4 linked regions of the Homo sapiens genome follow. The protein of the gene in region 3 purifies or fractionates together with the protein of the main gene of each other region. This does not show direct contact. Each region holds a gene or a part of one and is shown on either strand. Other genes may lie near its edges.

Region 1 (9,436 bases), on a different chromosome or scaffold from region 3:
AAGACTCATTGTTGGCATCACTCTTACCAAGCCTTCTGACTCCCCCAGGCTTCACGAGGTCTCCTCTCCCTTCCTCCTCTGCCCTTATTCCTCCCTCATTTGCCTATAAACTCAAAGACACGCCTATACTGAAGGTTTGCAGGTTGGATCCTAGCCTCTTCTCATGTTTACAGCTGCAGAACCACTCCATTCCTTTGTGGCTACTGTTTCCTCCACGTGGCTTTTTCTGCTCTTCTGTCTTGTCTTTCTCTTTTTTCCTCTCTCTCTCTGTCTCCTCTCTTTCTTTCTTTCTTCTTTGAGACAGAGTCTATGTCACCCAGGCTGAAGTGTAGCAGTGCGATCATGGCTCACCGTAGCCTCAGCTCCCTGGGTTCAAGCTATCCTCCCATCTCAGCCTGCCCAGGTGCTGGGCTTGCAGACAGACATGAGGCACCGCGCCTGACCCGTGTCTTTCTTACCAGGGGGTTTCTTCCTATGCTTAGTGACCTTGGCCATCCACTCATATATTTAAGAATAAAACACTAAAAGGCTTAGTGGAAGCTCTGCAAATGAGTGATGCTTGTTCATTTTCTCAGAATTAATTGACTAGGCTTTTTTTTTTTCCAATGTCTTTTCTCTTAATTGGTCACGCACCATAGAGAGGGCACTTCCACTCTCTTTGGCTGCCAATCTAGAAGCCAGGTGGGGGAAGGCTCGGGTGGTGTCTCTCTTCAGACTGTGAACTTTCTCTTAATCCCTCTTTTCAGTATGGCTCCCCCTACCTACCCCTGCAGTGTGCCTGGTGTCCCACAGTCAAGGTACTCTCTGGCTTATTCCTTCCTAAGAATAAATCTCGGGAGAGTAACCTTTTAACCATCTGCCAAGTTGGAAGAAGGGTAGTCACCCGGCCGCTTGGAGGGGATGGGAGGTGGGACAGGACTGTGGGGACCTGCTTCTTAAACAGACTTCCAAGTAATCTTCCTGTTCTTAGACCCACCTTCACCCCTATTTCCAGGGGGTCCTTGCACTAGAGTTCCTGAGATCTGGGGATAGGCCATGGTTAACAAACCAGGTGCTTAGGAGTTGGTAGATGAATTAGCCCTGGTCATCCACTTTGTGGCAATCATCTCCTGTCCTATTCTTTTTGGTTTTATGCTTTTTATTTTTGACACAGGGTCTCATTCTGTCACCCATGCTAGAATGCAGTGGCATGATCTGGGTTCAAGTGATCCTCCCACTTCAGCCTCCCAAGTAGCCAGGACTGCAGGCACACACCACCATGCCTGGCTAATTTTTTTTGTATTTTTTGTAGGGACGGGGTTTTGCCATGTTGCCCAGGCTGGTCTTGAACTCCCAGGCTCAAGCGACCGGCTCGCCTCAGCCTCCTAAAGTGTTGGGATTACAGGCATGAACCACCATGTCTGAAGGTTTTATGCTTTTTTTTTTTTTTAAACTCCCTTCTCTGTCCTTTTAGATGGAACAGAGACAAGCACATGTGATCAACCCACTATGTTTCACAGGTACACTCCTGAGTACATCTCCCAACAATCCTATGACATAAGCATTCCCATTTCACAAGAGAAAAACAGGCTCAGAGAAGCTAAGCTACTTGCCAAGGTCACCCAGTCAGCACATTATAGAGCTATGACATAATCTGAACCTCTCTTTTGAGGTCCACTATGGACATATTAGAGATAAGAAGATTATGGCCTAGAAAGGTTAGGCATTTATATCAAGATTAGAAGGCAAGAAAATGTCAGTACACAGATTTGAACACAGGGCTGTCTAACTTCAAAGCCTGTTCTCTCTAGTATAACTTACTACTACATCTTTTAAGGCCAACCCAACCCAGCTGCTCTACCAGGGCTCAAGAATATACTCTTGGGGAGTTCAAGAGCTGTCCTTGTGAATGTGTACATTTTGTGTTTTCATTTTTCCACATTTTTCTTAAAACCAGTAAACTAGGGTTAATCAGAATAAACCCTTTATAATCCAGCACTGCCCTAGGATTACAGGGGCTCCATATGTATTTCTGTCTATGATCATTATCACAGGCTCACGAAAACTGAATAGGCTGCCTTATCCTATAAGCATTACTTTTTTTTTTTTTTTGAGGCAGAGTCTTGCTCTTGTTGCCCAGGCTGGAGTGCAATGGCATGATCTCGGCTCACTGCAACCTCCACCTCCCGGGTTCAAGTGATTCTCCTGCCTCAGCCTCCTGAGTAGCTGGGATTACAGGCAGCCGCCACCACACCCGGCTAATTTTTGTGTTTTTAGTAGAGATGGGGTTTTGCCATGTCGACGAGGCTGGTCTCAAACTCTGACCTCGTGATCCGCCCGCCTTGGCCTCCCAAAGTGCTGGGATTACAGGCATGAGACACCATGCCTGGCCCCTATAAACAGTATTTAAACACCAAGTGAAACCAAATGAAGCCAGGGTCTAATGTGAGAACAAAGCCTTTGTAGTTATTTGAAAAGTGGCAGAAGAGCATCAGGTCATCCCACAGCAAGTGAATCTAATTTGCTTAAACTCAAAAGTGGGTGGGCCACTAACAGTCAAGACCTTCACGTTGTAACAATTCCATTTCAGTAAAACAGTGAAGAGCACATTCATGTTCACCTGAATGTTACTGGAATCGTAATTTTCTTTTAATTTACTTTGTTTTGGTCTTTAATGGTTGAGTAAGAGTTACAAGCCTAGGGGTTTACACCTAGTATCACGTGGATATACAGTGAAGTAACATAATGAAAATAATTTACAGCCTGGGCAACATGGTGAAACTCCATCTCTACAAAAAATACAAAAATTCGCTGGGTGCCATGGCTCATGCCTGTGGTTCCGGTTACTTGGGAGGATGAGGTGGGAGGATGGCTTGAGGCCAGGAGGTTGAGGCTGCAGTGAGCCGAGATCACGCCACTGTACTCCAGTCTGGGTGACAGAGCGAGACCCTCTCTCAAAAAAAATAATAATTTAGGCAAACATAAGGATCAGTGAGACTTTTGTGTTTTTGTTTTTGGTTTTTCCTCTACAGAGTCACTTTGAAAACTCAGGCTACCCTGAAGGCTGGCCAAAAGGATGACAACAATTATTTCCTTTGGTACTGTTAGAACAAAGTCAGTACAAGTGGGTCTAATCATCTGAGGCAACTTCTGTGTTTCTGCTTAGTCTAATGTTTCCCATCGCCACCACTCCCGTCTCAATCTTTTTGAATTGTGGGTTATTCCCAATCATGTCTTTTTTTCCTTCTATCTAAACCTTTGGGGGTGAAAAGTTGGCCCCTTTTACTGCGTCCATCCCGTAGCACTTGGCACAGGGAAGATGATGCTTATCTGTTGAGTTTGCTGAACTAAGGAACTAAAGTGAGTATTACCAACATTAAAGGTGAGAAAACTGAGGCTTAAAGAGATTTAATTTGCTCAAGATCGCTGGGATGAACATTTGAGCCGCTGGACAAGAGTCTGCATTTAGTCTCTAAGCTGGCTTCATTCTTAAGGATATCGCACCTCTCGAGGCTCAAATCGTTTGCTTAACTCATGGAATGTCTCTGTGGTCTTGGGAAAGGCCTCTTCCCGCTCTGGGTCTGAGTTTCCCCATCTGTGAAACGGGGGCGTGCCCCAGAGCGCCAAGGCCTCTTGCAGCTCTGAAACGGCTGAGAGGAGAAGCTGGAGGGAGTATGGGGCCTGGTCCTCTCCTAGGTTCTTACCATTTGATGATGTTGTGAACCAAAGGTAAAAAGGAGTAGTTCTCTTCCTCCCTCGCGCGGGCAGGTGACTGAGGCCGTGGCGCCGGCGACTGCTGCGGTTGAGGCGCAGGGACCGGCGGCGGCTGAGGAGGCGGCAGCGGCTTGGTGTCAGGCAGCGGCTGGTCGGACGTTGGCGGCAATACATCCTCCGCCTGTCGCCCGGCTGCCACCCCAGCAGAGGCCATGGCTCCGGGGGTAGGTTAGCCAGAGGTCGGGTCGCCAAAAGCGTCGCGCACTCTACACGTCACCACCGCGCGCCCTGCAGGGGCGGGGTGTGGAGGAAGGCTCTGAGCGTGCGCACTGGGCAGTCGGCGGGAAAAGGCGCGGAGGCGGGGGTGGGGAGGCTGTTGCTAGGCAACGGGCCGTGGGTGGGTCTGGGGTGCCTGGATTTGGATTGTGAGTCAAGATTGCTAAATTATTAAATAGTGAGAAATAGGGGTTTATTTCAGAAATAACAATCTTTTTTTTTTTTTTGAGACGGAATTTCGCTCTTGTTGCCCAGGCTGGAGTGCAGTGGCGCGATCTCGGCTCACCGCAACCTCCGCCTCCCGGGTTCAAGCGATTCTCCTGCCTCAGCCTCCCTAGTAGCTGGGATTACAGGCATGCACCACCACGCCCGGCTAATTTTATATTTTTAGTAGAGACGGGGTTTCTCCATGTTGATCAGGCTGGTCTCGAACTCCCCACCTCAGGTGATCCGCCCGTCTCGGCCTCCCAAAGTGCTGGGATTACAGGCGTGAGCCACTGCACCCGGCCAGAAATAACAATCTTCTTATTCCTATTCACACGATGAAGAGGGCCCCAAAGCCACAAACACAGGAAGCCTTGAGATTAGTAAGGTGCAGCCTGGCCCAGTGCACCCAAGTCTGGAGAGGAGCCACTGGACCTGTGGGAGGCGTAGACAGCACTTACCTGCTGGGTGAGGCACCAAACCCGGCCCAGCCCACAGTGCAAGACATCGAGACCTCGAGTTTAGCCCTAAGGACGCAGAGGCAAAGGGATTGCGGTCCCTTCAATGCTGCAAGGTTGCTTAGAAAGAGTCTAATAATTCAACTCAACACACATTTAGTATGCACCTGCTGGATGGCCACCTGTATGTGTGGTTGCAGGCAGGCTGTCCTTGCTTTCAGTACAAGGTAGAGGGGATTGGTGCCAGGAGTAAATATCATATCCTGGAAGAACGACAAGGTCAGGTACTCTCCATACCTTCGGGCCAGTTCCCCAAGCCCCTAGGTCCCAGTTTCCTCACCCCTAAAATCATATTTAGTTCAGATTCATGGCACAGCCTAAACTGCATTCTAACTTCACATGCGTGGCTGACCCCAAAAGGTCTTGTTGGCATGAGGACTCCCTAGGATCATAGGCCAAAGATGGGTTTATGGTTATGCTTCTCAAAACAAGTTTGATATGAGGGCTGTGTAGTAATTTTCCGGGCAATGGGGACACCCACCCCAAGCTTAGCTAGTGAGTAGAAGACATGAGTGGGGAAAGCTGTCAACTGGTGAGCCCATTCTGCTGTAATCCACCATCATGGGCAGTACAGAGAGGCGAGGAGGTCCACATCCACATAGCATGATGAACAGGAGCCTTAAGAGCAAGGTGGCCAGGGAAAGGATCAATGCTGATATTTTCAGGCACATTGGGAGGGCTGTGCGGAGGCAGATCCTTGGGGAGTAGGACCATAGATGGAAGTGCTGTTGGAGGGTGCGCTGTACAGGTTCTGTAGTAAAGGGCCTCAGCACAGCTCTCTGCAGCAAGAGCTGCCCACGGTGCCCCAGAGAGAGAGCAAAGGGAGGGAGTGGGTTGCGGAGTTTTCTTCCTTCTAACCATTGACCTCTCCAACTAAGGGAAAGTTCAAGAGTTCTGGTTGAGCATGGAGGAGAAAAAGGCCAGATGTGCTTGAAGAGACTGTATACCCTTGGAGTCATCTGGGGAAAGATGATATAGTAATAGTAATAATAATAGTAATTACCACAACTACCATGGAGTAAAAGTAGATACAGGGAACAGAGTTACAGTCACTGTCTCAATCCACAGACAGAGGTCTAGAAGATGGATGTCAGGATCCCCATTTTCTAGATGAGAAAACCAAGACTTACAATGGTTAAGATCCCAGCCTAAGGGTCAACGCAGTTGCTGATGCCAAGTCTATGATCTTAACCAACACTAAAGAGACTTCGGATCCCTACCAGTTCTGTAACTTTATGATTCAAAATGTTAAAGTGGGTTTGAATTCAGAATTCAAAAACCAATCCAATATTCATCAATAATATCCCCATGGCAATCACACGTCATCTTTGCCCTCCCAGAGTGTTTTATAACTTAATTATGAGCCACAACTATATCATTGTCAGAAAAATGAGGATGCTTCTTAAAAGAAAAAACACTTGAGGTATAAATAGATATGGCTAAAGAAAACAGGTTGAAAACCTAGGAAGCATGAACCAGTATGGTGCATTGACAGTTTGCCCTAAAAATAGTTAATATAATTAGTGGCAAAGAGTAAAGCTGACTTCATAATGTTGCAAGCGGATGTCAGAAAAATACTGCCTGTGCTGGTTTCATTAAAGCTGAAATTGCCACAACAAATGTGTGTCTGTTTATAACCTGCTCTGTTAAAAGTCAGGAAAGACAGATGCTCCATTGATATGTAAGGACAATGTATTGTGGTGAAGGAAACTTCACCCCACCACAAGGGAAGCTCTAAGGTCATTGCTTTCTTAGGTGGATTTATGCCGTTTCTCACGGGGCCTTGTCCAGTTAGTGGTTACAAGGTCAGGCTTTGGAGGCAGCCGCCTGACTTCAGCCTCAACTCAGCCTCCTTGGAGCTTCGTGACTGGGCAATTGCTTAATCTCACTTCGTGCAGCCATGCCACCTCGCAAGACTGAATGGGCCATTACTTGTAAAGCACTTAGAGTAAATATCTGTGCGCAGTAAATAGTAATTCTTCTTGCTATTAGATTTAGGACTTCTTACTTCACCAATTAACAAAACCCAGACAGACAGCAGCTAAGAGGAATGATCCACATCACTGCCCTTTGATAAAAATGTAAGCCAAACATGCAAGCCGCAGAGGCGGTGTTCAGTTTTCTAGCAGCCATATTAAAAAATAAGAAAACAGGTCGGGTGTCATGGCTTATGTCTGTAATCTCAGCACTTTGGGATGCCAAGGCGGGTGGATCACTTGAGGTTAGCCTAGCCAACATAGTGAAACCCCATCTCTACTAAAAATACAAAAATTAGTTGGGCGTGGTGGCACACACCTGTAGTCCCAGCTACTTGGGAGGCTGAGGCAGGAGAATTGCTTGAAGCTGGGAAGCAGAGGTTGCAGTGAGCCAAGATCACACCACTGCACTCCAGCCTGGGCGATACAGCGAGACTCTGTCTCAAAAAAAAAAAAAAAAAAAAAGAGAGAGAAAACATAGGTGAAGCTAATTTTAATGATACATTTTATTTAACCCAATATGTCCAAAATATTATAATTTCAACAAGTAATCAATATGAAAATTATTAATAGGATATTTTACTGTTTTTCCTACTGTCTTTGAAACCGGGTGTTTTACACTCACCGTACATCTCAATTCCAGCAGTCACATATCACTGCTCAGCATCCAAATGTGGCCAGCAACTACAGAACTGGATGGTGCAGAGAAATGGATTCATATCAACATAGACAACACTCACATCATAATGGTGGAAATGGAGGAAAAAGCGAGTTCTACAATGGATATAGAGTATATTACCACTTATGCAAATGTTGAAGCATGAAAAATAACATTCTCTATTGTCCATAAATATGACACCTATGTAAATGTATTTGAAAAAGGAACTGGGGGATACACCTCACATGGATGGGACAGGGGACGAAGCAAGGACTGGGAATATAACAGGCACAGCAACTTTCTATGTGGTGTTTTATCTCTTGTATATGAGATAACTTGAAGTAAATAGGATAAATATGAACAACGGCCAAATAGAGGGGTGGGTGCAAGGGGGTTTGGCACATAGACTCCATGCTCTGCTCCTCTCTGGCTCTATGACGCTGGGCAAGTTATTTAACCTCCCTGAGCCTGGGTCTCCTCATCTGCAAAATGGAATCATACAGTACCTACCTAATGGGGCTGCTGAAACAGTTACAAGAGGGAATGCATGTCAAGAGCTTCAAACAGTGCCTGGCACATAGTAAGCATCTATGTGTTAGCTACTACTGCTACTTAATTTTTTTTTTTTTCAAAAACCCTGGAGTAATTATTCCTTATGCAATAAACTGCTACTACAAGAACACATACAAAAACCAGACTGCACCCAGAACTGAACTTTCAGATGCTCAAAGTGGACCCGTATCACACATATCTATGAATATTCTTGTGATACAAGAATTCTGCTACGTAAAGTCCAAAAATAGTCATGTCTCCGTCAGACAGACACCATGGGTCTTGTTAAACTGATCATGTCATCATATGATAGAGGGCTTTTTCATCAAAGCTATATTCTTACTTATGATTCATCCTTTTCTTTTCATAACCTGGAGCCTCAGGCAGGTGGAAAAAGCTACACAATACTTTGATTTTTGTGAGTTAAAAAAAAAAAAGGCAGCAATCATTGTTCTGGCCAAATGTAGTGCAATGTATACCAGGAATCAGCTCACTGAAGCCACGATTCATTGCATAAACCTCAGACAAAAGCCCTTTGCTTGGGTCCACCCTGCGGATTGTCTTTCTTCTCTCTCTGAGCTCCACTTGAATCTCCTTTTTATTCTTTTCAGCCGTCCTCTCCTAACTCTGAGATACTCCATTACGTTCATTTTCTCAACTCATTTCTGTTAGTGGTTTCATTTCTCAGAATCATTTGTTTTGGGGGCATTTCAGCATACAAATCCGACTGTATTTTTTTCAGACTGAGAGAATGTTCTCCTTGAGTCCTTTCTTTTAGTCCTTCTGTTTGTGATCTTTCACCAGATCTTCACCAGCTGCCCTTAAATTACCAAACAGCTTTTGATATAATACAAATGAGAGGCAATCCATTCCAGGAACTAGCTTTTATCAAAAATGGTTCATTATTGTTCTGAAGCCGTATTTTTTCCAATCTCTTTACTACATAATTTTCATCCAAATTATTTGTTAGCCAATTTCTTTTTCTGTTTACCAGCTGCTCCCCAAAAGCCTCAATCTTAACCCCTTCTGTTAATCCTTTTTTTTTAAAAATGCCCTTCTTCTCATGGTCATCTTTTTGTTTTTGTCACTCTTCCCCCCAGCTTTTTTTTTTTTTTTTTTTTTTTTTTTGAGGCAGAGTTTCACTCTTGTTGCCCAGGCTAGAGTGCAATGGCACAGTCTCGGCTCACTGCAACCTCCACCTCCTGAGTTCAAGCGATTCTCCTGCCTCAGCCTCCCGAATAGTTGGGATTACAAGCACCCGACACAATGCCCAGCTAATTTTTTTGTATTTTTAGTAGAGATGGGGTTTCGCCATGTTGGCCAGGCTGGTCTCAAACTCCTGACCTCAGGTGATCCACCCACCTCGGCCTCCCAAAGTGCTGGGATTATAGGCGTGAGCCACTGCACCTGGCCCGACTTTTCCCCTTTTCTAGAAGTTGTTTTGGGTTTCACTTTACTAGATTTATTGTACATCTTTGACTCTTAACTCCAGTTTCAAAATTGTAAATAAAACATTAGCCAGGCAGGAGAGTCGCTTGAACCCAGGTAGCAGAGGCTGC
Region 2 (4,589 bases), on a different chromosome or scaffold from region 3:
GATCAGGGTTTTCCAGAGATGACAAGGTTGGAATATCTGGCGGTAAAGCAAGTTTGAGATTCCCGACACAATTTTTTTTTTTTTGTAAATTTGAGACAGTCTTGTTATGTCACCCAGGCTGGAGCGTGTTGGCGAAATCTTGGCTCCCAGGTTCAAGTGATTCTTGTGCCTCAGCCTCCCGAGTAGCTGGGATTACAGGTGTGTGCCACCAGGCCTGGCTAATTTTTGTATTTTTAGTGGATATGGGGTTTCGCTCTGTTGGCCAGGCTGGTCTCGAACTCCTGACCCCAAGCAATCACCTGCCTCAGCCTCCCAAAGTACTGGAATTACAGGTGTGAGCCAGTGTGCCTGCCTCTCAGACCCAGTTCATTGTAATAGCTAGATTCTTTGCCGGTTTATTCTGCTCTAAAGATTCTCCTTGAGGGAGGTATGAAATTAGAACAAGCTGCCTTTCTCTTATTTGTAAATATTACACTGTCTTCCTCAGGCATTTGGCCTCTCTTTTTAAATTATTGCTCTAAACATAGCTTTTTTATAATTGTGAAACATGCTATGTAAATAGAGTAAGATAGTTTACGGAATAAAGTGAACACACTCCTGAACAACCCCCAAGTTAACAAAATGAATAACAATAGCTTTTTATAAACTTTTATAACTTTATAAAATAGTATTTCTGTGAGACCCAGTTCATTCTGAGCTTCAGTTTTCCTCAAGTTTTTCATAGGTTTGTGCTATTTTTATATATATTTGTTTTATATTATTCCTCATCTTTTATAGTTTGTAGGTGACTTTTGTTTTGATGTGGTAGAACATTTGGGAAGTAGAAAAAGGCATTTAAAAAAGGAAAAAAATATACCCTTTCTGAGGCAGTCACTTTAAATATTTTAGCCTGTTTCCTTTTTTCCCCTATACATTTTTTGCTTAATGTTACATCATAAGGCTGTCCCTGTGTCATTAATAATGCTTTGTATGCATCATTTTTGTTAGCTACCTAAAGTACAACCAGGGGAACTCAACTGTGATATCCTTGGATATCACCTCATATTTCTCATGTTTTAAAAGTACAGGAAAAACAGATATGGGGAGTCACTGCCACATTTTGGACCAAGGAAGGGACAGACCTAAAAACAGTCTTCCCCAGCTCCATCCCAAGGCCGATACTCTCATATCATGGTGCTGTCATTGGAGAGGGTGCAGTGTAATGTGGCCCACTCCATGGCAGAGAAGTTAGATGAGGCATCAGAGGCCAGAGCTGGCAAGCAGGAAATTACCCACTGGGGTTCCAGGGAGACTTGCTGGGAAGCTGCCCTTTGGGATTCTGGTGAAACCTGCTAGGAAACCACCTTTAGAGGCGCCACCGAAAGTTGCTGTGGTGAACACCACTTAATGTCCTGCACACCAACCAGGCATCACAGCAGTAAAGGAGACAAAACCACCTGATCCAGGAAGTGAAACTTGTTTGCTAGTGGAGTCCCACCTGTGCCCTCTACTGACAAAACTTAATTGTGGCAGCTGGCAAAGGAGAAATGGTTTCAGGGGCCAGAGAGAAGGGTAGATTTGAGGCTAACTGGCATACCTTTCTAGTTAATACCATAACTCTTTCTTTTGACCCTTTAAAAATCTGCCTTCTTTATTTGAGTCTTGAACTATACCTGTTTATGTGCTCTGTCCCTTTGCTTCAGAAATACAGACTTTAAATGTAACTTGGGCCCTTTTTTAAGGTATTTCATATGCATACATTGCTAATCAACCTCTCTTTGATGAGAGTCACTTACAATAGCAGTTCCTCTATCAAGAAATCATTCAAATCTATTATAATACTAAAGTACCTATTACTTGTTTATAATATGTAGAATAATCTACATAACCTAGTATACATAAGTATGTATTATATATGCATATAATAGATACATAGATACAGGAAAAATTTGTAATTACAAATGTCTTACAAAAGAAAAATTATGTCAACTGACTAAATAGTTTCTTACAGAGTAGTATGATTTTTTTAAAAAAGTCCCCAGTTGCTAAAATATCAACTTTTCCTTGATAAATTTGATTTTTATTAATTTGGCTAAATGTGTATTTTTTTCCTAGTCTTAAAAAAATTGGCACAATAGCTTATGCCTGTAATCCCAACACTTTGGGAGGCTGAGGTAGCAGGATAGCTTGAGCCCAGGAGTTGGAGACCAGCCTGGTTAACATAGTGAGACCTCATCTCTACAAAAACTTTAAAAAGTACTCAAGCATGGTGGCACATACCTGTAACCCAGTTACTCAGGAGGCTGAGGCAGGAGGATTGCTTGAGCCTAGGTCAGGGCTTCAGTGATGTATTCGTGCCACTGCACTCAAGCCTGGGTGACAGAATGAGACCCTGTGTCAAAAAAAGAAGAGAAAAAAGTAAAATTAAAAAAAATACTTCAAATTGTTGCATAAAGGGAAAAGTAAGAACTAGATTAATTACAGATAGAGCTGTTCTTATCTATGCTTCTTTTTTTCTCCAGATGTCCTTGCTCCACAGTATCCATGGCAGTCAAATGACATGTCGATGAATATGTTACCACCAAATCATAGTAGTGACTTTTTGTTGGAACCTCCTGGGCATAATAAAGAAAATGAAGATGATGTAGAGATTATGTCAACGGACTCCTCAAGCAGTAGTAGTGAGTCTGATTGAAAAACCTTAAAAGACAATATACAGAATTGAATACTGTAGAATTCTGTTTCTTTAACAGTAGCAGGGAAATGTAAACTACAGGTGACAAAAAATACCCAGGTAAACACTGGCTTTGGTAGAATTGTGCAGTCATTAAAAGTCAAAATTTTTTGACTTTCTTTTTAAAGCCAAAGACCATAGTTTTAGTTTTAAGCCACTAGGTAGATATTTAGGGGAATAGTCAAAATTTACTGTTGAAAAAGCAGTTGCTATGTGCTTTCTTACCCTGTTCTGTTCCAGTTTTGCTGGATTTGTACATAGCCATTCTAGAAATAGAGTTGAGGGAAATTATCCATATACATATCACTAATAGGCTTCTTGGAATTATTTAGAAAAGCATTTTTAAACTGGCAGTGGATGACTGAATAGGCATCATATTTCTTTTTGTGTGTCATTTAAAAGTAACAAAAACTGCCATTTGACAGTAAAGGCTCTTGGCTTCTGTTGGAGGCATGGGAAATTGTCTCAATTTGTACAGTTTGTAATTGTAATTTTTGTAAATAAATTTGTTTGTACATTGTATGCTTTTTTTTTAGTTTAAATATACTGTCAGTGTAGGTAGGAAATTATTTCTGTAAATCCAGTTGCATTTTATAATACTTGAGTGACTAACTGAATTGAAACCTATTACAATTAATAGGGTTCTCAAAGGCCTATTCCTATTAGAAGAAATAATTTTTTTTAATAATTGAAAAAATTTACCACAGCCTTGTCTGATTTTAAGAATAGATTGTGTGAAGATTTAGAATGGAAAGCAACCATTTCTTCCCTTCACCTTCCTCTTCTTACAGTTCCCCAGGAGTCATTTTTAACCACTTTTAATTTCTGTTGGTAACCTCTGTGTTTAGGTAATATGCTTATACAACTATTTCTTGATGTATCAGTTTTAGACAATGTATCTTCTGATTTCAAAGGTAATACAACATTTAATGTGAAACATTTAGTGAATACAGTAAAGGAGAAAATAAAATTGTTAGCATTCTACCCAGAGATAATATCAATTCATATTGTAGTGTAGATTTTTTTAAAGTTCACATACACTTTTTTGTAAAATGAGAATAATGTTTATTTCCTGAGATACTGCTGTATTTTTTAATTGCTAATCTGTATTCTTCAAATGAACTGAGAATTCCATTTTTCCATCATTTTTTCCTTTTGATTATTTTCGATCTCTAGAAAAATTGGAAAATAGGAGATTAATCTTATATTTTCACCATCTAGAATTAAGGACATACAATGTTTGAATGTCTTTCCCTCCAGGGTTATTTTTAGGAATGGACTAACACAATATCTAATTTTAACCTTGCCTTGTCCGTATACTAGGAATATTGATCCATGTGTATACATTCTTGAAAGATTTACTTTAATGGCTAAAATTTTATTGTGGTATGTGCCATAATGTAACTGCCTGTTTTTATCACCAAATCTTTAGGGTAGATTCAAAAGGATTGTGTTTTTCAAATTCTTTAATACTGTATTAGTTTTCAGTTGCTGCCGTAACAAATTACCACAAACTTGGCTCAAAACAACACAAATTTATCTTAGTTTTGTACATCACAAATGTGAAGTGGGTCTCACCTAAAATCAAGGTGTGAGCAGGGCTGCATTCCTTCCTGGAGGCCATAGGGGAGAATCTGTCCCCTGTGTCTTCCAGGTTTTAGAGGCCGCCCTTGGTCCTGCTCCAGGCCCCTGGTTGGTGAGTGTTTCTCATTCTGCATTACTGTGATGCTCTTCTGCCTACCTGTCCCATATTTAAAGGATCCTGTGATCATTCTGAGCCCACTGGATAACCCAGAATAATCTTCTTATTTAAAGTGAGATGATTAGCAACCTTTATTCTGTTTGCAACCTTAATTCTTCCTTGCCATGTAACAAA
Region 3 (8,682 bases):
CAAAAGAATGGCTACTCCATAGGCAGAGCAGAGATATGGGCTGCTCCACTGAGTATACTTACAGTTATTTCTTGGTTACATGATAAACAAGGGGTGGATTATTCACAAGTTTTCTGGGAAAGACATGGGGATTTCCCAGAATTGAGGGCTTCTCCCCTTTTTAGACTCTATAGGGTAACTTCTCAAGTTGCTATGGCATTTGTAAACTGTCATGGCACTGGTAGGATGTCTCCTATAATGCATGCTAATGCATTATAACTAACATATAATGGGCAACAAGGAGACCAGGGGTCAGTGAGTAGACCAGAGGTCACCATCCTGGTTTTGGTGGGTTTTGTCTAGCTTCTTTACTGCATCTTATCAGTGGAGTCTTTATGATCTGTATCTTGTGCAGGCTTCCTATTTCACCATGTGACTAAAAACACCTAGCTTCCTGGGAATGCAGCACAGCAGGTCTCAGCCTTATTCTACCCTATTCAAGATGGAGTCACTGTGGTTCAAATGCCTGACAGTTATTTCTATCTTGATGCCCCCATAGGTACTTCCAATTCGACATGCCCCAACCAAGCTTATCTTTCTCTCAAAAATTGCTCCCATTCCTGTGTTTCCTAACTTTCTGAAATTTCTACCATATTGCTGAAGTCAAAATTCTCAAAGTTATCTTGGATTCTTCCCTCTCCTTTAGTCCCACATTTAATTAATTACTAAGTCTTGTTAAATTTTACTCCTAAATAATTATAGTATGTGCTTTTTTCTTATAGTGCTGCTCTTCCGTGGTTCAGATCCTTGTTTTTTGTTTGTTAGTTTGTTTTGAAACAGAGTTTCGATCTTGTTGCCCAGGCTGGAGTGCAATGGTGCAATCTTGGCTCACTGCAACCTCTGCCTCCCAGGTTCAAGTGATTCTCCTGCCTCAGCCTCCTGAGTAGCTGGGATTACAGGCATGCGCCACCACGCCCGGCTCATTTTGTATTTGTAGTAGAGACGGGGTTTCTCCGTGTTGATTAGGCTGGTCTCAAACTCCTGGACTGAGGTGATCCGCCCACCTCGGCCTCCCAAAGTGGTGGGATTACAGCCATGAGCCACTGCACCCGGCCCAGATCGTTGTTTTTACCGTCCTATTGCAATAGCTTCTTTGCTAGTCTCACCTTCCTCCAATTGAACCTGAACACTTTTGTCAGAGAATTTGCTTAATACTCAGGGCTGATTATAGTTCTCCTTAGCTCAAAAGTGTGTAATAGCTTCCTATTGCCTACAGAATTGAGAAAAGAAAAAAACTTTCATTTGAGGAATGTGAGGCCTTTTAAATTATAAGGCACAGAGAGACATTAAAATAATACAGGAATTAGGCTCGCGCCTATAATCCCAACACTTTGGGAGGCCAAGGTGGGCGGATCACTTGATGCCAGGAGTTCAAGACCAGCCTGGCCAACATGGCAAAACCCTGTCTCTACTAAAAATACAATTAGTTGGGCTTGGTGGCACATGCCTGTAATCCCAGCTACACAGGAGGCTGAGACAGGAGAATCACTAGAACCCAGGAGGCAGAGACTGCAGTGAGGTGAGATCGCGCCACAGCATTCCAGCCTGGGTGACAGAGCAAGACTCTGTCTCAAAATAAATAAATAAATAAATAAATATATATATAAATAAGATACTGGAATCAGGTGATACTTTCCCCTTGAGCTATGTATTCATCTCCTGAAATGCTTGCTATTGCCACAAGTAGCTACAAATTAATCCAATAATGCTGCACCAGATGCTATAACCCACACCCTATATCTTAACAATGTATAGCTCATTCATTAATCAATGTTATTCCTGTAAACCAATGAGAATTCCTCACAAACAACTTTGAGCCCACTTCCTATCCCCCTTTTTTTGCCTTTAAAAATCTACTTGCAACTGCTCCTGATTGGAGTGTACATTCAGGGCAACTTGTATCTATACTCCTGGGTTGCAATTCTAAAGCTTGGCTCAAATAAACTCTCTACTTATATTAATTTTGCCCCAGCTTTTTCCTTTTAGGTCGACAGAATAATGAAACCTAAAACCTCTCCCTGACATAAATAGCTTTTCATAATTTGACCTCTGCTTATCTGTTTAGTATTTTCTTATCCATTACTTTTTCCTGTCTTAATCTGTAATATTCAAACTAGTTGCATTTCTCAGAATATATGATGTTCTCTCATGATTTATGTACATGCTGTTCTACCTGAAATAATTCCTTGTTTCTTGCTCTTCGACTTGTCCTTCAAGTAAAGGCTTACTCATGCTTTAAATTTTGGCTCTCACTCAGCAGATGGGGCTGGAGTGAAAAAAAAATTTGGCTCAAACCTACCTACTTCATGAAGTCTACCCTGACTCACTTAGAACCCCGCCTATTCTACCAGTGCTCTTTTAAACCACAGTTTATTTTTAATTTGCTTGCATATTTGTTTTTTCAGGTTTAATTCCCCAATGGAAAAAGACTAATTTTTTTCCTGCTATCTCCAGCAGTTATTATAGTGCATGGCAACAAGAGCAACTGAGATTTTTCTTGATTAAAGATACCATTTTTTTTTGAGTCGGGGTCTTGCTCTGTTGCCCAGGCTGGAGTGCAGTGGCATGGTCTCAGCTCACTGCAACTTCTGCCTCCCGGGTTCAAGGGATTCTCCTGCCTCAGCCTCCCGAGTAAATGGGACTACAGACACATGCTACCACACCTGGCTAATTTTTGCATTTTTAATAAGAGGCAGGGTTTCACTGTCTTGGCCAGGCTGGTCTTGAACTCCAGACCTCGTGATCCACCCGCCTTGGCCTCCCAAAGTGCTGGGATTACAGGTGTGAGCCACTGCACCCAGCCTGAAGAGACTCAAGGTCTAAGGAAGTTTTCCAGGAGTGGGTGATGTAGCAAATAAGGTAAATCATTCCCCCTCCCACTAGTTTTCCAAGTTTCTTTCAAAACCTAGCAGGCAGTTCACTATTCTTTCCTTATCTACCACTTTGGGTAGAATTGACAATTCCCTTCTTTGTCCTCCTAATGAATGTGTTATGTCCTATCCTAGCACCAATCATGTTTAAGTGTGTATCCCAAACATTTGGGACATTAGGCTCACCATTACAGGGGAGGAAACCCTCTTAGGTTCTTCAGCTGGTCTATAAACTAAATTGATACCAGTCAGGTTAACAGGAGAAAAAGTTTTAATTACGTATGTATGCACAAGAGTCCCACAAAATATGAGACTCAAAGAAGGGCCAGATGTTTGACACTTATATTACATCCTGACCTCAAAAAGGAAGTGGGGCCCGGCATGGTGGCACGGACCTGTAATCCCAGCTACTCAGGAGTCTGAGGCAGGAGGATCCTTGAGCTCAGGAGTTGGACGCCAGCCTGGGCAACACAGCAAGGCCAGTCTCTTCAAAACAAAAGTGGGGTTTGGGGCTTCCAGGAGTGGTGGAGACAAGTTAAGAGAGGATAAGAGGAAAAAATGTCTAAGGTGAATAAAGGTTGACTTTTATGCAGATAAAAGTATCTCAGATGATACAAGTTGACTAGCAGCAGCTCTCTTTCTGGTAAGATTCCTTTAATTACGAAAATTTCCTTTAGAAATGTAAATTTCTCTTTACAAAGGAAGAGTTATTCTTTATTTTAGGCAGTAGTGGGATAAGTGAAGCATTTTCCTGTGTTGGCTGGATCTTAATTTATTTTGCTAAAAGACATCAATATGCCAGAGTGGCGTATTTTGGGGTGGCATATTCTGGACTCCTTCAGTTATAATTTGGGGTAGTGTGTCCTGAGCCCCAACACAATGAAATCAATCAACGTTCACCCTAACTAAAGGGGCTTTCTTAAACATTCTAGAACCTCACATCATGCATAGACCATAAAAAATCCTTTACAATTCAACCCAAAGGATCGTAAACGCGGCTTCCTCCAGGCACTTTTAATTGTCCTTAGACAGATGGCCAAAGCCTGGTTATGGGAACCGCATATGCTAAGAGAAAGCTGACTACAGCGCCAAGAAAATGATGATTGGCTGCTGGGGCTCAGAAGTTGCATGTTCTCCTCTGGCCAAGGCAGGCTCTAGGAAACTGCTGAAGGTTCAGTTTTTGAAATACGGTTTTTGCATCGTAAAGAAAAAAGATCAACCTATCAGGAAGAACCGAGCACATCCAATCACCAATCAAGAGCGGGAAAGAAGCCAAAGCCTGGGGATACCCACGCACCAACGAGGACGTCATTCTCCAGCCCCCGCCAATGAGCAGCGGGACGGGGGGCGGGGCAATAGGCGGACCCACTGCCCTAGAAAAGAAACAAGCTGCGGTACAACTGTCCTCACCAGCCCTCGCCTCCCGAGTCACTGCAGCCAACCCTTCAGCAAGGTGCTGATTTAATGCTTTCCATACTCTCTGCGTGGGGCTAGTTACAGTGAAGTATCCCCTTCCCACTAGAGTAAGGCACTTCTTTCCAGTGTCTCCCCGAGAACCGCAGAAAGCACACTGGAACTTCGAGCTTTCTACCTTCACAGGAACCGGGAGCCGTGCGCTACCTGAGGGGGAGGGGCGGCCCTGGTACGCAGGCGCGCATGCTTTGTGGGGGCGAGGCTGTGGTGGCCCGAGGTAACCTGGGAGCTGTATTTCTTACGCCGGCAAAACCGCCCAGGCCGCTGAGGCCTTCGCGACTTCATTTCCCAGGAGCCTCCGCGACCATGGGGCGGGCCAGTGAGTTCGCTAATGAGCTCGAGGAAGCCACGGCGCGGCCCACCAGGTTCCAAAACAAGGAAATGAAGGAGGGAGGCGGGACTGGGGGTGCCTGCGGGAGCCGCCGCCGCCGTCGCGGAGGAGGAGGAGGAAGAGGTGGAGGAGGTGGCTGCTGTGGCCGCCGAGGAGTCCCTTGCTGAAGGCGGACCGCGGAGCGGCGGGCGGCGGGCGGCGCGCGCGCGCGCGCGAGAGGCGGCTGTTGGAGAAGTGGAGCGGCGGTCGCGGGGGGAGGAGGAGGAGGGACTGAGCGGCGGCGGCCCCCGCGTCCCGTGCCTCTATGGGGGAAGCAGACAATGGATTATGATTTCAAGGCGAAGCTGGCGGCGGAGCGGGAGCGGGTGGAGGATTTGTTTGAGTACGAAGGGTGCAAAGTGGGACGCGGCACCTACGGTCACGTCTACAAGGCGAGGCGGAAAGATGGGTAAGAGCAGGGGCGGGAGGAGTAGGCTCGCTCGGGTCCTCGCCCTGCCCGCGACCTGGCGGGATGGGTGGGTCGGATCCCAGTCGGGCCGTGCCCGAGGGGCGAGGCGGAGGGGGTCGCGGGGTTGCGTCCGGACACCGACTCCGAGGGGCGCCCGTTCCGCCCGCCTCCCCCGCGCGGCCCCGTCGCGTACCTCGAACTCCCGCGGCGCAGCCCGGTCCGAGGCGTCGGTCCCGTCCCAGAGGGGCGCCCTCCGAGTGCTCGGAGACGGCGGGGGGACTCGAGTTGGGACCGCGGTGGAGGAGGAGTTTGTGGGGTCTAGTCTCTTGGGGGAACGCAGCGGGCAGGCAGAGCTCCGCTGCGGAGTTGCCGCTCCGGCCCTGGGTAGTGACGGTCGTTGTGGAACTTCCAATCGGCTGAGCGCCTCGCGGGGGCGGCGGTTTGAAACCTCGCCGGGGAGCCTGTCGGGCGAACGCGGCCTGGGGTCCTCGCCAGCCCCACGGCTCTGACCCGCTGGGCACCGCCGCCCCCAGCAGCGATCTCCGCCCTTCGGGCTGGCCGGCCCGTTGGCTTCTCTATGCAGTCCTCCCATCCCTGTTGTATGCCCGGCGTCCCGGGTTTCTCATTCTCACATTCTGAATTGCGTACCTTCCCCCTTCGAAGGAGACCTGATGGGCTAGCTGCGTTTCGCAAGCGGCAACTTAAGAGTTGGCTGAATTCTCTGCTACCCACCCTTTACCTTGCAGCCCCTTGGGTATCTTGGGTATTATGTCCTCCACTCCATCCTCTGCCAGATGACTGTGGGCTGGGGCTTATGGAGTACCTATATTATCAAGAACGGAATACGAAGTGACAGAGCTGGGCCTGAACCTTTGTTTTCCTAGGAGTTGAGGGAGAACTGTAGGAACACCTTGGGAAGCCTTTACTGGTTGTCCTCTTAAGAAGAGCTGGATAATGTACTGAGAATACCTGTCCTTTCTTGGTCCTGGAGGGCAGACAGCAGCTACAGCAGGACTGGTGGAACCAGCTTCCTGGCAGGAATTACCCTCCCCCAAAGCTAGGGACCCAGGAAGATGCCCTGTCCAGCATAGACTTTAAAGAGAGTCAAACTCTACGGAAGAGGATTGTAACGGACCATTTCTGAATAAAGTGATGATCAGCCACAATGACATTAGTAAAATTTGAAGTGCCGCTTATCTTTGTGCGTGCTGTTATAATTTGATGTGGTTGGTATATGAACTCTAGGACTAAAGTACGTTGTGTGCGTATGCACTAACTTCATAAAACAACTCTATTATAAAGTGTTTTGTCATAAGGTATCGTGAAAATTGCAAAGTGCTATCCAAGTGTAAAGGATTATTATTATTGCAGAATTTTTTTTTTCTTTTGTAACTGAACAGGCCTTAAGGTACTCAGTTGTTTCTCATAATTCCTTTAATTACCAGGTGTCCTTGAATGCTTATCATGGAATGTGAGATACTATAATTAACATATTTTGGTTTTGGAATATCCACTCCACCTGTTATACTAGTGTTCTTGTGGGAATTTTATCAGTTATATTTGGGGAAAGCACATCCAGTTTTCCGTTTGGACATTGTTAATAAATCTGAGGTGGGTTTTTCCCATACTCCTCATGCTAACTTTGTGGTATACTTTTGGTTTTAAAAAATGTATCTTAGTGTTTTTTTTGTTAAAATAGCTTTCTTTTATTAGGGAACTTTTGAGAAGTTAAAAATTCTGCTTCTGAATTGTATTTGAATAGTATGGGCTTACAACAAAAACCAGATAATTCTTGCTTCTATTCTTTTTGAATATTTTTCCCCTCTAATAAAGTACTTGATTCGAATACACTTCCTTTTTGAGTGAAATTTGTTAATTAGAATTAATAAAGCTTCTTTACTAGAGTAAGATTAGTTTGTGTGTCTTCAAAATATAATGCTTTTTTTCTAAAAAAAAAAAAAACCTCTCAGGATCTGAAAGCATTAGTTTAAATCACTGTATTACGTATAAGAAAAACCGTAATAAAGGCTTTTTTCCTGGATGAAAGATCTGGTTGAGATTTGCAACTTTACAGTAAACACCCACGTCTCTTGTGGGTTGGTAGTGGGATTAATTTTATGTTCATTGATACCAGCAATTTGAAAGAACATCTGTGTCCTTTGGGTTCATGTTAAATTTTTTTTTTTTTTTTTTTTTACTGTTTTAAACAGTGGGCAGATTTGCATAGTAAAGGATTTTACACTCCGATCATGGTAGATTACAGTTTAGCTCTTTCTAGATTTTATTTTGGTTAACTCAGAAAATGCATAATGCTATTTTAGGGAGCCAGAAATCACATAGGTTACATTAAAGATAAATGATTCTGGTATATATAATGTAGTATATAACCAAAACATTGTTCAGGTCTTTAGAAGAAACATTAGAAGAAATAAAATATCATTAGAAAAGTTTAATACTACAGTTAGCAAAATGTTATTTCCCTTGAAGTATGACTTTAGGCAATATTAATTATATCACAAATTTATAAGAGGCTGGAAATGCAAGATTTACATCTGAGTTTTTCACCTTTAATTAAAAATATTCTCTGGGTCGGGTGCGGTGGCTCACGCCTGTAATCCCAGCACTTTGGGAGGCCGAGGCGGGTGGATCACGAGGTCAGGAGATCGAGACCATCCTGGTGAACATGGTGAAACCCCGTCTCTATTAAAAATACAAAAGGAATTAGCCGGGCATGGTGGCGGGTACTTGTAGTCCCAGCTGCTCGGGAGGCTGAGGCAGGACAATGGCGTGAACCCGGGAGGTGGAGCTTGCAGTGAGCCGAGATCCCGCCACTGCACTCCAGCCAGGGCGACAGAGCGAGACTCTGTCTCAAAAAAAAAAAAAAGTTATTTGTTCACCTTTTTGTTTTGCAGGAAGAGAGGCTTTTGACCCAACTCTCCTTTTTATTTAATATTTATACTTTTGAATATTTTTTGTAGAGACCGGGTCTTGCTGTGTTGCCAGAGCTAGTCTTGAACTCCTGGGCTCAAGTGATCTTCCTGTCTCAGCCTCCCAAAATGCTGGGATTACAAGTGTGAGCCATCATGCTGGACCTCCAACTCTCTTTTACTTTAAAAAAAAAAAAAAATCCGGTTTAAAAGTTGTTCTTTTTTTGTTTTTTCGTTTTACAGACAGGGTCTTGCTGTGTTGTTCAGGTTGGTCTTGAACTCCTGGCTTCCCAAAGTGCTGGCATTACAGGCTCATGCCACCACACCCAGCCAAATGTTACTCTTGAAGAGAAACAAGTTCAGAATATTTCTGAACTTTTTAATACAAGCAAGAATTCATAAAATAAATTTTCTTCATTATTAAGAAGTCGCACATGACAATTTATGGTTACAAATTTCAAGACTGCATTTTTCCAGTTAGAAACATTTAAAAATTTGATCGATAAAGGAATATTGTTAAAAAGTTCTTTTGTTGGCCGGGCGCCGTGGCTCACACCTTTAATCCCAGCACTTTGGGAAGCCGAGGCAGGTGGA
Region 4 (8,910 bases), on a different chromosome or scaffold from region 3:
GGGTAGCGTGCTTGTTGACTGAGCAGATATAACATGAGATGAGTGACTGCTCACACCATCCAGCTGCAGGGCCAGTCTCCGTGTACAGAAGTAGGCAAGCCGGCGGGACAGGTATGCAGACTGAACAAATTCCCCAGAGTACTGTGAAGACACGACCATCAGAGCCCCTAGTTCTCTCCAGGGGACCCTGCTCTAACATTTTATTCTTCCTCAAATTCTTCTTAGACTCCCCCTGCCCCACCAGTACCAAAATTCCAAGCCTTACTCGGAGAAGCAGAGGCAGCAGCAGTTTAAGCAATTCATCCTCTCCAGGGCGGATCTTCTCAAAACACTCAAGCACCCAGGTCAGGAACTCATGTCTGTCCAGCATTCCATCCTATGGGTACCAGGGGAGGGAAGAGGGGACTATTAGAGATGAAGCAGATAAAGTAAATGAAAAGATGAAGAGAACCACAACTGGGGCAAGGTGGCAGGCAGATTCTGTTCTCTACTGGCAGAGTACAAGTTCAAGCTCAACCCAATGCCCCACACAGCATGCCCTACTCTCTACCTGAAACATGAACATGGCCAGCTTCTCGGTGTAATCCCACTGCCGGATTGCCACCTCTACATCATGGGGCAAGGGCCCTATCGTGGAACCACAGCCCCCACTTCCTGCAGGCCCTGGCCGGTAGTATTCAGCCATCTTCTGTAACTGCTCCCATAAGTACTTGGTGATGATCTGAGTCCATTCTGGAGGAAAGAGGGAAAAAGGGCTATTTGATACTATCCTTCTGCTTAGAATATCCTTCTACTGGCTGGGTGCGGTGGCTCATGCCTGTAATCCCAGCACTTTGGGAGGCTGAGGCAGGTGGATCACGAGGTCAGGAGTTCGAGACCAGCCTGGCCAAGATGGTGAAACCCCGTCTCTAGAAAAATACAAAAATTAGCCGGGCGCAGTGGTGGGCGCCTGTAATCCCAGCTACTCGGGAGGCTGAGACAGGAGAATCACTTTAACCCGGGAGGTGGAGGTTGCAGTAAGCCAAGATCCTGCCACTGCACTCTAGCCTGGGTGACAGAGTCTTGCTCTGTCTCAAAAAAAAAAAAATCCTTCTACTTAGAATACCTTACCCCCACCCCTAATCACCATATTTGTAAATTCAGTTCATCCTTTTAGTCTCTAGTCAAATCCCACCTTCCTAAAGCCTTTCCGGGTACCCCCATAAGAAAGTAATCTTTTGTCCACTCAAAGAACCTTCTGCTCCTAGCTTGACATTCACCACTTTCTATATTTAATTATGTTATTTGTACATATACCTTAGCAGCCCTGTTAGACTACTAGTATCCTAGGGGCAGAGATTATGCACCGGACATCTTTGTAGCCCAGTATATGCGCACAGTAGACACTCAAATTTCTCAGTGTTTACTGATCAAACAAATGCAAGAAACAAGCAGAAACAAGGAATCTAGATTAAGAAGGAGGATGGTTCCAAGGGTGTCTCTATCACTCCTTGAAGCCATCAGCAGTACACCTGGTGTTAGGAGTTACTCACCCATGAAAGGGTCAACATGTCTCTTCTTAACCTTGGTCTCAGAGATTGCTGCATAGTAGGCACAGGTCATCTTAATGAGCCAGGCAGCCCGCATCACAGGCACTGTGTATTTGGCTAAGTACCCAAACACCTCTTCCTTCTTACTGAAAATGGGGACCTGGATGGACATTGCAAATAGTGAGGTCTCTATTATCCCCATGAGCTGACACCCATGTAGCTTAATATGGGAATAGGAGGGTACTTGGTACCCCATGCTCCCTCCTTGGCCTGAAGGACAGGAAACAGTACCTTACCTTTTTGGCTAGTTGCGTGAGTGGCTTGGTGCCAGCCAAGTCAGTGAACCAAGTGTTAATGGCACTCTGGGATCGTGCAGTCACCAGCCAGAAGTTATCCTTCTGGTTCACTTGGGGCTTCCTGCGACCAGTGTCAGGAAGGGTATTACAACGTAATTTCTCTGCAATAATGCTGCTGAAGTTGGAACTGATCTGAGGGAAGAAAAGTGTACCTCAGGGTGGGAAGAAGGGGCAGACAGGTGGTCCTGCCTTTTGCTGGGCAAATGCCAATGAGATAGTATTAGGTCATGAAGGCAAACTCAGCCACTTAGGTTGTCCCTATAAGTCTTCCCAACCCAGGGCCTTTGCTCCTTCTTAGATTCTTCCAGCCTTTTCCTTCAGCCTGGCAGAGTTGTCTCACCTTGGCAGGATTGAAGCTGACGTTCTTGGCACTGCCATGCTCATCCCCAGAGACAGCAGGCTGGTTATTGAAACCTTGTTTTACATTCAAGGCCGTCAGTTCATCCTGAGGCAGGAAAGCGGCGTTTAGTTGTTTTTTCCTTAGGGGAAGGGGGAAGGGGTGGGAGAGTAGGGCAGGAGAAAAGAAGGAACAAGGTGAAAGGGCAGGAGGAGGGTTCCGTGTAGAACAGATCGTTACTTAAAGCTGGGCCCTTACGTTCACTTGGACCCCACCCTCACTCCCATGGTCACTAGGATTCCCAGCCACCCAGCGCGCCCTCAAACATCACTCTTCTCTTGCGAACAGCCGAGCAGCCGTACCCCACCAAGCTGTCTCAGACAACTTTCTGAGGTGTGTGTGGAGGAGGGCGCCTCTGGTGCGGCCCCTACACCACCCCCTATTCATACCTTGGAACCCCCCACCGCCCCCCGTCCTGCCCTCCCACGCCAGCCCACTTTACTCTTCCCCCTTTCGGGACTTTTGCTCTCACCGAACCGCCCCGCCCCCCATTCCCAGCCGTCAGTGCCTCCTCCTAGGCTGACCGCGTGCCCCCGGCCCCTCCAGAGCCCCGATTTTCGAACGCACCTCCTTCTGTTTGGGGTCCTGAGGGTAAACATCGGGAGGCCCCAGCCGCGGCCGCTTCAGGGGCCGGTGTTCGTAGCTCAAGATCCCGAAGGCCGCCATCTTGCCCAGCCCGTAGCGCCGGAGGCACCAGCAGGGCCAGGCTGACTGGGGGAACGGGAAGGGGGAGAGGGAGCCGAAAAGGGGGGCGGTGGTTGAGAGGACGGCGGCCGAGAGACAACAAGGGGGCACGTTAGAAACTCTCGACCATTGCCGGAAACTACCGAGGGAAGCCGAGGTACGCCGGGAACCATCGGACAATACCGACTGCAGAGGAGGTGGGGCCTGGCCCGGTGGGGGCGGAGCTCTGTGCCCCGGGAGTTTTTCGGCGGTGGCGGCAGCAAGTCGATTTCACTCAGCAAAAATCTATGAAACGTTCCGGAGGCGCAGAATGAGCTGGGGATGCAAACCAGGGAAGAAGGAGGCCTCTGTGGTGCTGAGTTCTGACTGGACTTCGGTTCCCATAGCCTAGCTCGGTTTTGGCCTAGAAAAGTCTTCAATAATATTTGCATTGGTTAGGAACTCCGTCTATTACAGATCAGTTCGTTTCTTAGTTCCGGCATCTGAAAAATAGGTGCGCTAACACCTCCTTCAAGGGGCTATTGTGAACATTAGAAACTATGTATGCATGAGAAAGAACCTATTAAACCCTGAAAGGCTGGCTCTAATCCCTCAAGGTCTACCATCGAGTTGTCTAACCTTTTCTTGTTTGTTTTTCTGCCCAAGGGTACCGCATACTAACGTTTTTGATTCACAAACCCTTAAAGGTGCTGATGAAAGCTATGGACCTTCTTCCCAGAAATAATAATAATAATAATAATAATATGCATATATTGACATGCAAAATGTTGCTTTAGATTCTTAGATCCCCTGAAGTTCATCCATGTATCCCCTAAGGGTCCATGAACTCCAGGTTAAGAACCCTTGGTCTAGCTAAAGAGGCACCTATTGTGTCAGATGCTTTTCAGACACTATCTCCTTTAATCTGCTCACAGCCTCATGAGTTAGGGATTATTATTGGCTCGATTTTGCGGATGGAGGAAGCTGGTTTTCAAAGTGTGAAAATTCACTTATCCAATATTATACAGCTACTGAGTAACAGAGCTGGCACTAAGATTCTGAATTCCAGAGCCAATATCCTATTGTCGTATTGCTATTTGTTTATTTTGAGGCAGGTTCTCCCTCTGTCGCCTAGGCTGGAGTGCAGTGGCGCTATCACGGCTCACTGCAGCATCAACCTTCTGGACTCCAGCGATCCTCCCGCCTCAGCCTCCCAGTAGCCTGGACTACAGGCGTGCGCCACTGTGCCGGCCTTGTATTGCCTTTTAGAGAAAAGACAGCCAGTGTGCTGTAACAAAAGTAACAAATAACAATAAACAAAAATAACACCAGTAACAAAAATAACAAAATGCTATTGAATCACAATGGAAAGAAGAAGTAATTCAAGGCGGGGAGTGGTGGCTCACGTCCGTAATCCCAGCACTTTGGGAGGCCAAGGCAGGGAATCACCTGAGGTCAGGAGTTCAAGACCAGCCTGGCCAACGTGGTGAAATCCCATCTCTACTAAAAATACAAAAATTAGCTTGTGTGGTGGCAGGCGCCTGTAATGCCAGCTGCTCAGGAGGCTGAGGTAACATTTGAACTAACTCTGAAGGATATTTTTATTTTATTTTATTTTTTATTTTATTTATTGTTTTGAGACGGAGTCTCACTCTTGTTGCCCAGGCTGGAGTGCAGTGGCGTGATCTCGGTTCACTGCAACCTCCGCCTCCCAGGTTCAAGTGATTCTCTTGCCTCAGCCTCCCCAGTAGCTGGGATTACAGGCTTGCGCCATCATGCCTAGCTAATTTCTGTATTTTTAGTAGAGACGGGGTTTCTCCATGTTGGCCAGGCTGGTGTCAAACTCGTGACCTCAAGTGATCCGCCCACCTCGGCCTCCCAAAGTGCTGGGATTACAGGCGTGAGCCACCACGCTCAGCCTGAACGATATTTTATTTATTTATTTATTTATTTATTTATTTATTTATTTATTTTGAGACTGAGTTTCGCTCTTGTTGCCCAGGCTGGAGTGCAATGGCGCAATCTCGGCTTACTGCAACCTCTGCCTCCCTGGTTCAAGCGATTCTCCTGCCTCAGCCTCCCGAGTAGCTGGGATTACAGGCATGCACCACCATGCCCAGCTAAATATTTTTTTGTTGTTGTATTTTTAGTAGAGACGGGGTTTCTCTATGTTGGTCAGGCTGGTCTCGAACTCCCGACCTCAGGTGATCCACCTGCCTCCACCTCTCAAAGTGTTGGGATTACAGGCGTGAGCCACCAACCTGAAGGATATTTTTAAAAAGATAATTTTTCTTTTCTTTCTTTTTTTTTCTTTTTTTTTTTTTTTTGACAAGGTCTCACTCAGTGGCCCAGGCTAGACTGCAGTGGTGCAATCTCACTTCACTGCAACCTCTACCTCCTGGGCTCAAGCAAACCTCCCACCTCAGCCTCCCAAGTATCTAGGATCACAGGCGCTGGCCACCACACCCGGTTAATTTTTGCTTTTTTTTTTTTTTTTTTTTTTTGGTGGAGACAGGGTTTTGCTATGTTGCCCAGGCTGGACTTAAACTCCTGGTCTCTAGCGATCCACCCACCTCAGCCTCTGAAAGTGCTGGGATTACAGGCATGAGCCACAGCACCCAGCATAAAAGAATTTTTTAGAGCAGTTTTAGATTCACAGCAAAATTGAGAGGAAGGTATGGAGAATTCCCATATACTGTCTGCCCTCACACATAGATAAACTCCCCCATTGACATCCCCCACCAGAGTGGGCCAGGCATGGTGGCTCATGCCTGTAATCCCACCACTTTGGGAGGCCGAGATGGGTGGATTGCTTGAGCCCAGGAGTTCTAGACCAGCCTGGGCAACATGGTAGAACCTCTATCTCTCCAAAAGCAAAATAAAACATTAGCAGGGTTTAGGGGCGGGCGCCTGTAGTCCCAGCTACTCTGGAGGCCGAGGGGAGAGAATCACTCGATCTCAGGAGGTGGACGCTGCAGTAAGCCATGATGACCCCACTGCACTTCAGCCTGGGCAACAGAGTGAAACTCTGTCTCAAAACAAAACAAAACAAAACAAAACAACAACAACAACAACAACAACAACAACAAACCCACCAGAATGGTATATTCGTTAGAGTTGATGGACCTACCTTGAACATCATTACCCAAAGTTCATGGTTTACGTTAAAGTTCACTCTTGATGTTATTTTATACAGTCTGTGAGTTTGGACAAAGAATAACATGTGTCCACCATTGTAGTATCTTACAGAATATTTTCACTGACCTAAAAACTTTTTCTGCTCCACCTATTCATCCTTCCCTCTCCGACAACCCCTGGCAACCGTTGATCTTTTTACTGTCTCCATAGTTTCGCCCTTTCCAGAATGTCATATAGTTGGAATCCTATAGTAGGTGGCCTTTTCTGCATGGCTTCTTTCACTTAGTCATATGTATTTAAGTTTTCTCCCATGTCTCTTCACGGCCTTAATAGCTCATTTCTTTTTGCACCGAATAATATTTCACTTTCAGGATGTACCACAGTTTATCCATAAACCTACTGAAAGACACCTTCGTTGCTTCCAAGTTTGGGCAATTATGAATGAAACTGCTATAAACATCCGTCTGCAGGTTTTTATGTGAACACAAGTCTTCCACTCCTTTGTTTTTTTTTTTTTTTTTTTTTTTTTTGAGACGAAGTTTCGCTCTGTCGCCCAGGCTGGAGTGCAGTGGCGCGATCTCGACTCACTGCAAGCTCCACCTCCCGGGTTCACGCCATTCTCCTGCCTCAGCCTCCTGTGTAGCTGGGACTACAGGCACGCGCCACCATGCCCGGCTAATTTTTGTATTTTTAGTAGAGACGGGGTTTCACCGTGTTAGCCAGGATGGTCTCGATCTCCTGACCTCGTGATCCGCCCGTCTCAGCCTCCCAAAGTGCTGGGATTACAGGCGTGAGCCACCGCGCCCGGCCTCCACTCCTTTGTTAATACCAAGGAACATGATTGCTGAAAGAGTATGTTTAGTTTTATAGGAAACTGCCAAACCGTCTTCCCCAGTGGCTGTACCGTACCATTTTTGCATTTCCCCCAGCAACAAGTGAGAGTTGTTCCTGTTGCTCCACATCCTTGCCAGCATTTGGTGTAGTCCGTGTTCCGGATTTGGGCAATTTTTTTTTTTTTTTTTGAGACAGGGTCTCACTCTGTCACCCAGACTGGAGTGCAGTGGTGCAATCTCAGCTCACTGCAACCTCCGCCTCCCAGGCTCAAGCAGTTCTCCTGCCTTAGCCTCTCAAGTAGCTGGGATTACAGGAATGCGCCACTATTGCCTGGCTAATTTTTGTATTTTTTAGTAGAGACGGGGTTTCACCATGTAGGCCAGGCTGGTCTTGAACTCCTGACCTCAAATGATCCACTCACCTTGGCCTTCCAAAGTGCTGGGATTACAGGCATGAGCCACCATGCCCGGCCTCTTTTTTTTTTTTTTTTTTTTTTAAACAAGAGATGGGATCTTGCTGTGTTGCCCAGGCTGGTCTCCAACTCCTGGGCTCAAGCAACCCACTCGCCTCAGCCTCCCAAAGTGCTGGGATTTCAGGCAAGGTGTGAGCCACCTTGCCCAGCCCATTTTGGCTATTCTAATAGGCATGTAGCCCTGAAGGATTTATTTATTTTATTTATTTTATTTTTTAGGCAGAGTCTTGCTCTGTCACTCTGGCTGGAGTGCAGTGTGCGATCTCAGTTCACTGCAACCTCTGCCTCCTGGGTTCAAGTGATTCTTGTGCCTCAGCCACCTGAGTAGCTGGGACTACAGGTGAGTGCTACCAAACGTGGCTAATTTTTGTATTTTTGTAGAGATGGGGTTTTGCCTTCTGAAGGATTTTAGCCTACAGAAAGTTAGGAAGAGGCTAATTCCAGAGAAAGGAAATGCGTATGACATATCCAGTGTGGCTGGAATTGATCATTGGAGCTTGGGCTTTATTCTGAAGGCCATGAGTAGCTTTTGAAGACTTTTAAATTGGAGAATGCCCTCTGTAGTGGGTTGAATGTGGCCTCCAAAAAGATATGTTCACTTGGAACCTGTGGATGTCACCTTCTTTGACAAAAGGCTTTTAGCAGCTGTAATTAAGGCAAAGCTCCTAGGAGAGAACACCCTGGATTAGGGTGGGCCATAAATCCAATGACAGGTGTCCCTGTAAGAGAAGAGAAGGATAAAGGAGATGCAGAGAAGAAGAAGAGGTAATGCAAAGATGGAGGCAGAGATTGGAATGATGTGTCTACAAGCCAAGGAGCACCAAGGATCGACGGCAGCCACCAGAAGCTAGAAGAGAGGCATGGAACAACTTCTTCCTCAGCGCCTCCAGAAGGGACCAACCCTGGCCACACTGATTTCGGACTTCTGGGCTCCAGAACTGTGAGAAAATAAATGCCTTTTTTTCCTTTTTAAAAAATTTTTATTTATTTATTTATTTATTTATTTGAGATGGAGTCTCACTCTGTTGCACAGGCTAGAGTGCAGTGGCGCAATTTTGGCTCACTGCAACCTCTGCCTCCTAGATTCAAGCGATTCTCATGTTTCAGCCTCCCGAGTAGCTGGGATTACAGGTGTTGCCACCATGTCTGGCTAATTTTTGTATTTTTAGTAGAGACGGGGTTTCACCAGGTTGGCCAGGCTGGTCTCGAACTCCTCAAGCAATCCACCTGCCTTGGCCTCCCAAAGTGCTGGGATTGCAGGCGTGAGTCACTGCACCCAGCCGAGAGAATAAATTTCTGTTGGTTTAAGCCACTCAGTTTGGGGATAACTTATGGCAGCCCTAGCAAACTAATACATACTAAAGATACATACTAAATACTAAGCTGGGCCATATAGTCCAGTTTTCCTGAGACTCCCAGGCAAGTGCTGTTTTTCTTTGCTTAATATCCTACACCACTTTCTGTCTGGTAAAATTACACTCATTCTTTAAGATGCCACTGAAATAGCACCTCTTCAGCACA

Evidence for each region.
Region 1: the proteins of CDK19 (region 3) and MED9 purify together in Homo sapiens (affinity purification with mass spectrometry; 9 studies listed by BioGRID and IntAct, with this or other methods). This does not show direct contact.
Region 2: the proteins of CDK19 (region 3) and MED4 purify together in Homo sapiens (affinity purification with mass spectrometry; 9 studies listed by BioGRID and IntAct, with this or other methods). This does not show direct contact.
Region 4: the proteins of CDK19 (region 3) and MED12 purify together in Homo sapiens (affinity purification with mass spectrometry; 12 studies listed by BioGRID and IntAct, with this or other methods). This does not show direct contact.

What each region holds. Positions count from the first base shown.
Region 1 is NC_000017.11:17,471,513-17,480,948, reverse strand, and holds the start of MED9 (mediator of RNA polymerase II transcription subunit 9), read right to left. Parts: upstream 3,950-9,436; 5' UTR 3,908-3,949; coding exon 3,684-3,907; intron 1-3,683.
Region 2 is NC_000013.11:48,075,224-48,079,812, reverse strand, and holds the end of MED4 (mediator of RNA polymerase II transcription subunit 4), read left to right. Parts: exon of another isoform or gene 1-36; intron 37-2,259; exon of another isoform or gene 2,260-2,371; intron 2,372-2,461; exon of another isoform or gene 2,462-2,501; coding exon 2,502-2,674; 3' UTR 2,675-4,089; downstream 4,090-4,589. UniProt on the Homo sapiens protein: Component of the Mediator complex, a coactivator involved in the regulated transcription of nearly all RNA polymerase II-dependent genes.
Region 3 is NC_000006.12:110,811,488-110,820,169, reverse strand, and holds the start of CDK19 (cyclin-dependent kinase 19), read left to right. Parts: upstream 1-4,700; 5' UTR 4,701-5,033; coding exon 5,034-5,161; intron 5,162-5,354; exon of another isoform or gene 5,355-5,553; intron 5,554-8,682.
Region 4 is NC_000023.11:71,112,793-71,121,702, reverse strand, and holds the start of MED12 (mediator of RNA polymerase II transcription subunit 12), read right to left. Parts: upstream 3,108-8,910; 5' UTR 2,949-3,107; coding exon 2,850-2,948; intron 2,331-2,849; coding exon 2,226-2,330; intron 2,018-2,225; coding exon 1,826-2,017; intron 1,690-1,825; coding exon 1,533-1,689; intron 733-1,532; coding exon 551-732; intron 377-550; coding exon 266-376; intron 142-265; coding exon 1-141. UniProt on the Homo sapiens protein: Component of the Mediator complex, a coactivator involved in the regulated transcription of nearly all RNA polymerase II-dependent genes.